2 linked regions of the Homo sapiens genome follow. The protein of the gene in region 2 purifies or fractionates together with the protein of the main gene of each other region. This does not show direct contact. Each region holds a gene or a part of one and is shown on either strand. Other genes may lie near its edges. The genes, in order: PBLD and ELMOD1.

Evidence for each region.
Region 1: the proteins of ELMOD1 (region 2) and PBLD purify together in Homo sapiens (affinity purification with mass spectrometry; one large-scale study listed by BioGRID and IntAct). This does not show direct contact.

The regions. Positions count from the first base shown.
Region 1 is NC_000010.11:68,282,160-68,285,044, forward strand, and holds the end of PBLD (phenazine biosynthesis-like domain-containing protein), read right to left. Parts: intron 2,131-2,885; coding exon 2,018-2,130; 3' UTR 501-2,017; downstream 1-500.
Region 2 is NC_000011.10:107,632,420-107,636,452, reverse strand, and holds part of ELMOD1 (ELMO domain-containing protein 1), read right to left. Parts: intron 818-4,033; coding exon 688-817; intron 1-687. UniProt on the Homo sapiens protein: Acts as a GTPase-activating protein (GAP) toward guanine nucleotide exchange factors like ARL2, ARL3, ARF1 and ARF6, but not for GTPases outside the Arf family.

The sequences.
Region 1 (2,885 bases), on a different chromosome or scaffold from region 2:
TAGTCCTAGCACTTTGGGAGGCCACAACAGGTGGATCACTTGAGGCCAGGAGTTTGAGACCAGCCTGGCCAACATGGTGAAATCCCATCTCTACTAAAAATACAAAAATTAGCCAGGCATGGTGGTGAGCACCTGTAATCCCAGCTACTTTGGAGGCTGTGTCATGAGAATCATTTGAACCTGGAAGGCGGAGGTTGCAGTGAGCCAAGATGGCACCAGCCTGGGCGACAGAGCAAGACTCTGTCTCAAAAAAAAAAAAGAATTTAGCATACATTTGAAAGATCAGATTCAGATCTGATCAAATTCAGGCCCTCTCAACTGTACATTTATATAAACTTATTCATATAGTTCAGTCTCAGGTTTGGAAAATCCAAAATTGGGGGAAAACCCTCTGGTGATTCTCGCCCTTGGTATCATGACCCGTGGGTGTGTTGTGATGAGTTGTGAGGTCTTCTGGGGGGCGGTGGGGCACTGGTTACTCAGTAAGTTAAGGCATTAAAGCTGGTGAATTATTGATTTATTGCACATCAGGAGAAACACAAGATTACTGCTATAATAAATTCACTCTTACATGCTTTAGCAAAAATCAGTAAAAATAGAAAACATGGTAACAATTAAAGTGAAAAAATTGGGGTCATTAAAGAATGTCTGACTGATTAGCTTGCAGTTTTTGAGACGGCTGAGAACTACCATCAATGAGATCACCTTAAACAAACACTCTTAATGACTTGAAAAAGTCCCCATCCCAAAGTCAACTATAGGTATTCAATATTGTATATTTAACTGAATTTAAAGTTATGTTAAAACCCATTTTATTGAAGTAAGAGAAGAATTCCTTTTACATTATCATTCTCAAGCCATATATCAAGAAAAAGATTGAAATTACATTCCTTTTTTTTTTTTTAATAGAGACAAGTTCTCGCTGTGTTGCCCAGGCTGGTCTCGAACTCCTAGGTTCAAGTGATCCTCCTGCCTTGTCCTGCCAAAGTGCTGGGATTACAGGCATGAGCCGCCACGCCCAGCTGAGATTACATTACTTTGAGTGTTTAATTTCACTATGACAGGAAGTAGCCTAATACATACTTTTTTGTGTTAATTTTCTGGATTCATCCTGATTTTTAGTCTTCGTACCTGAGTACAACAATAAAGGAAATCACTTCTTAGATACATTAAAATTACTTCTAAACTTGCCCCCCACACATGAACTGTTTTCAGTTTGCTATTTTTAATGGCCCATGCTTATTTATATAGACATAGCATAACACTGCTAACACTTTATGGCCTACTGTCCTCTTTCTTAGTATTATATTATAAAATATTTTTCTATATTTCCACATAGTTATTGACTCATTTTAATGGCTGCAAAATCAGGTACTCATTTAAGCTCAAATGGTTTAGTATCACTCCTCAGAAATGTATTCCTCCTTCTCTTGATTGGTAGTCATAATCAAATGAAGTGACATTATTCTTTGTAGCTGGTTACTTACATTTCAAATACACTCATGAGTGGAGCCAAAACTCCATTAGTTCATTAGTCTGGAAGCACTATTAAATCTCCATTAAAATGTCTTCACTTTTCAATTTTGTGTGTGTGTGTGTGTGTGTGGATGGAGTCTTACTCTGTTGCCCAGGCTGGAGTGCAGTGGTGTGATCTCTGCTCACTGCAACTTCTGCCTCCTGGGTTCAAGCGATTCTCCATGCCTCAGCCTCCCAAGTAGCTGGAATTACAGGCATGTGGCACCACACCCAGCTAATTTTTGTATTTGTAGTAGAGACGAGGTTTCACCATGTTGGCCAGGCTGGTGTCGAACCCCTGACCTCAGGTGATCCACCCACCTTGGCCTCTCAAAGTGCTACGATTACAGGCATGAGCCACTGCGCCTGGCCCATTTTTCGATTTTTAACATGAGGATTAAGTAGACTACTACGCACATTTGCTAAAGGCAGCCCCTTACATTTCTTTTTAAGCAGAAAATACTTGGTGGTTAGAGACAGCAGCGTCACAGCATAACCACCTCTAGGCTGTCAGTGTGCCCTCTAAAACAACAGCTGCACCTCCTCTAATGTCAACCCTTCCGTCTGGACGAAGGGAAATTCCCAGCTCTCCTCCTCGGTGGGAACACTGAAAAGCTAAAGAAAACAAACAGGTCAAATTAAGAGTATTTTCACCCTTTTAAATTAACAAAGCATAGTGAAAGACTTATTACAAATCTTAGAGTCCTCCCAGATCAGTTTCAAGAATAAATTCCTTCGTCTGTTTATGGTACTGCCCACTCCCATCCCCATTCTCCTGCAGACTGAGAAAGCCACAAACTCAATTTGATCTACAGAACACACAGCTCCACATACTCCCTTCCTGAGCCTTTTCCTGGGCCATCTCCTTCACTAATTCCTGTAATGGCCCAGACACACCCCACTCATCGCTTCTTCCCCTGCTCTCTCTAGGAGTAAGCAAAGATGTTTGAAACAATAGAGGCAGGCCTATAACTCTAGGAAGATGAAGAAGGGTGGTCTCAGCCCTCTTGAGAAGGCCCCCATCTTCTCAGCTCTGAATAGGACAGAGGGAGTTCATTCACTCATAACATATTCAAGCAACCACGTGTTCCAGGCAGACAAAAGAGGCATAGCCTCAGCCTTCCAGGAGCTCAGTACTTAGGAGAATAATTAGACTCGCCAAGGAAAATGAATAGCCACCTTGCTCTCTCCAAATCAGGGTCACAGACTCCTCCTTGGATGATCAGGGCAGTGCAGCCTCCATTGGCTGCCATCATTTTTCTCTGCCTCTAAGCAATACATTAATCACTAGGGGACTTGGTTCCAAAGTAATTTGTTTGATTCAATCCTGTGACTAGCAATAGCAGTAAGGAACCTTGGTCATCATCCAG
Region 2 (4,033 bases):
ATGTAGTTCTAAAGGGTAGTCTTAATTATTGTGGGGTCTTAATTTCTTTAGCCCCAAACTCAAGTGTTTTGAGGGAAAGTTTTACTGATGTTTCTTAATATACCATCAGATCCTGTAAGATTTTTAAGGTTTTGCTTTGACAGCCAGGAGTATTCATAACTCCACATTATTTCTCCAGAAGTTCTAGTGTGCCAAATATAAACCTTTACCTCTTCTAATACTAAGTTACATGCATAAATAATCAGCATTAAGATCTTGGGTAATTTCCCAAGAGGGCCATTGCTGAAGCAGAAACCAACTTTATCTTCTCTGATGTGTATTAAAAGTCGTAAATGGGAATCCCAAGTCACTCTTTGACAAATGCTATTTCTCCTGTTGGCTTTCAACACTTGTTAAACAAACTAAACTTAAGCCAAATGTGAGAGCCCACAGAAATCACCTCTGACGTTTTCTCAGATTACAAAAGAAAATTGGCTTTGAACTTAACTTCTCACAGGAATTTTCTGATGAAAAATTTACTTCCAACACCTGAACCAGCGAGAAAACTTGACCTTACCAACCAGTTAGGTGCCCGTGTCTGATCCATCTTTGTACCCCTGATGTCCAGAGCAGCGCCTAGCACATAGCAGGTGCCTGGCAAATGTCAGCTGACTTAGAGGAAGAACCGAAATGTGTTCAAGCACTAACCTTCAAAAGCATTTCTTCATGTTGGGGATTATCAGAATCATAGGCCTCTCTACGCAGTTTTTCCACATCTGCAATAAGGTTCCTGTACCCAACGATTTGCAGAAGGCAAGCCTGAAGAGAGATTCCCAGCCTAGGGTGTTCAAAAACAGAAGAGACACACAAGGAAGAACAGGGCATTCACTTTGGCATTTGTTCACTTGATGTATGCATGATAGAACTTTTCATATTAATATAATATTCAGGAAATTGCTCAAAGATGATCTATTTAATAGAAGCACAATTCTTATTAAATCTCCACATGGACAACTGTAGAACCTGGCTAAAATTTGCCTCGAAGTCTGACTTTTTCTAAAGCTAAATGGCAATGGTATGACTTAAAAATAAGGGATTTCTGAGGCCAAGATGGGAGGATTGCTTGAAGCCAGGAGTACAAAACCAGCCTGGGCAACAAAGCAAGATCCTATCTCTACCAAAACAAAACAAAACCAAAACCCACAAGGGATTTCTTTATGCAGGTTACTTGAAATTATAGGTAATACTGGGCTCTTAGGGATTATATAGCACCCCCCAGGTGGTCATATCAGAATTACCTTAGAAAGATGTGTGGAAGAGAATGAGGATGAGGACAACAGAAAAAGCCCTTAAGGGCTTCAAGGAAAAAAATCAAAACAAAATGAAGTGAAACAAAATAACAATAACAACACCACCTCCACTTAGGAGTGTCCTCCTCAGGGGAGACAGTGCTAAGAGGGTAGTTACAACTTTACAAGATGTTCTATTACATTCTGACCGCTGTAGTTGTCTGAACACTTTTTCTTATGCTGAAACAAAATCTGCTTTGCTTATTACAAAGTGGTTCCAATTCCGTTCTCTGAGCAAATTTATTTCCACCTTTCCAGTGCCATGACTATTTAAGATAGCGAGTCTTCTAATCTCTAGGGAAAAGAGAAATCTTATTTCTTCATTTCCCTCTCATGGGACATCTTATTTCAGATGTTTTATTTTATTTTTATTTTTTATGTTTTGAGACAGAGTCTTGCTCTGTTACCCAGGCTGGAGTGCAGTGGTACAATCTTGGCTCACTGCAACCTCCGCCTCCTGATTTCTAGTGATTCTCCTGCCCTAGCCTCCCGAATAGCTGAGATTACAGGTGCCCAGCACTACATCTAGTTAATTTTTATATTTTTTAATAGAGATGGAGTTTTGCCATGTGTGGCCAGGCTGGTCTCGAACTCCTGACCTCAGGTGATCTGCCTCCCTCTGCCTCCCAAAGTGCTGGGATTACAGGCATGAGCCACTGCGCCCAGCCGGTTTTCAGATGTTTTATGATCGTTCTCAGTCCTCTCCGAATGTACACTATTTGAATAACAGTACCCTAAAAGCATATCACTAGAACAGAAAACAATCTGGCAACTGTAACACACAGAGGATCATTACTTTCTGTGACTGGAATGCTGTTTTCCCTTTCTACAGCCTCTAAAGTAATGTAGAATCTAAAGGTCTAAAAGTAGCACTTCACGTTTATTTTTTCCTCCTAAATTCTTTAGAGTCATGTATTTTCTGTGGCTCAAAAATGGCTGAACATTGGCAATTGCATATGATACTCTCCAATCTAGTCTTTTGTCTTGTTCACTCATGGACTTTGAGCATGTTTGAGGTGGTGTGGTGGTGGTCATTATAATCACTGTACATCATCATATTTTTTTTTAGGGGTAAATGACATGCACAGATGTTAAATCTCAAGTTGAGGGCAACAGAACTTAGAACTGTGTACCTGCTCCAAACGTACAGGACAGTCAGACAGCCTAGGAATACTGAACTTTAATAAAGTCATATTCAGTGAATGACTTTCATCATTACTTGTTACCATAGCACCAAACAACTAGGCCAGATATTAAAATTTAGGAAAGGGCACCATAGCACTAGCCACCTAGAAAGTCCATGTAGTATGGAGAATAGCGTTAATTTTGAGGGAAAGAGGAGAATGGACGGAATATAAGAGGCAGAAATAAGGAAAGTCAATTAAATTTTCTCTGGCCGGGTGCGGTGTCTTACGCCTGTAATCTCAGCACTTTGGGAGGCAGAGGCGGGCAGATCACGAGGTCAGGGGTTTGAGACCAGCCTGGCCAACACGGTAAAACCCCATCTTTACTAAAAATACAAAAATTAGCCAGATGTGGTGGCACGTGCCTGTAGTCCCAGCTACTTGGGAGGCTGAGGCAGGAGAATCGCTTGAACCCGGGAGGTGGAGGTTGCAGTGAGCCTAGACTGCGCCATTGCACTCCAGCCTGGGTGACAGAGCAAGACTCTTGTCTCAAAAAAAAGATTAAAATAAATAAATAAATTTTCTCTGTCGTAATTTTTAGTGCCACCATAAGCAGCACTTAAAAAATGTAATTAAAACAAGTGAGGTTAATAGTAGTAACAGTTTGGTAAGTTATAAAGTGTTTCCCCCATCTCTAAGCTATTTCTTTGTTTTCTCAGAAAAGTACTTAATTTTTTTATATCAGAGCTTATCAATGTCGCTCTGTAAAAAAGGCACTAGAATCCACATGGAGATTTAAAAAAAATACTACAGGTTGAGTAACCCTTATCTGACATGCTTGGGACCAGAAGTGTTTCAGATTTTGGAATAGTTGCATATACATAATGAGATACCTTGGGGATGGGACACAAGTCTAAACATGAAATTCATTTGTGTTTCATATACAACTTATACACATAGCCTGAAGGTAATTTTATACAACATTTTTAATAATAGATGCAATCTGTCACATGAAGTCAGCTATGGAATCTTCCATTTGTGGCATGATGTCAATGCCCAAAAGTTTCAGATTTTGGATTTTCAGATTAGGGATCCTCAACCTGAACCTAAAAGGGTCTTTTAAAAAAATGAGAACAAGAGAATGGATGGCAAAGAAATGCTCTTGAATGCACCTTATATAACTTTCATAGAAAAGATTTGCTATTAAATCTAATCCAGTCTCTAAACATGATTACAGGACTCATATATCCCTCTTGCCAGTTGTAGTCTTAAATTTTTCGTTCAATCTTATTTATAATGAACTGCCTTCTTATCACCTTCCCAGAGGAATAAAATATATGTTAGAAGGTTTCAAAAAGACCTTTACTATATAAGTAAATCAACCTTTGGTAGCTGAATAGGCAAAAGGCAGCTAATGAACTGAAGCGGCTGCTAAAGAACGCTATAGAGACCAGGCAAAAATGGAGGTTTTGTGATGAGCCCCTAGATAGCTAGTATCCAAAATCCTTCCAAGAGATAGACCTACGCAAGTGTGCTCTGAAATTCCCTTCAGCTACAGTTCCTGTAATTATTAATAAAAGC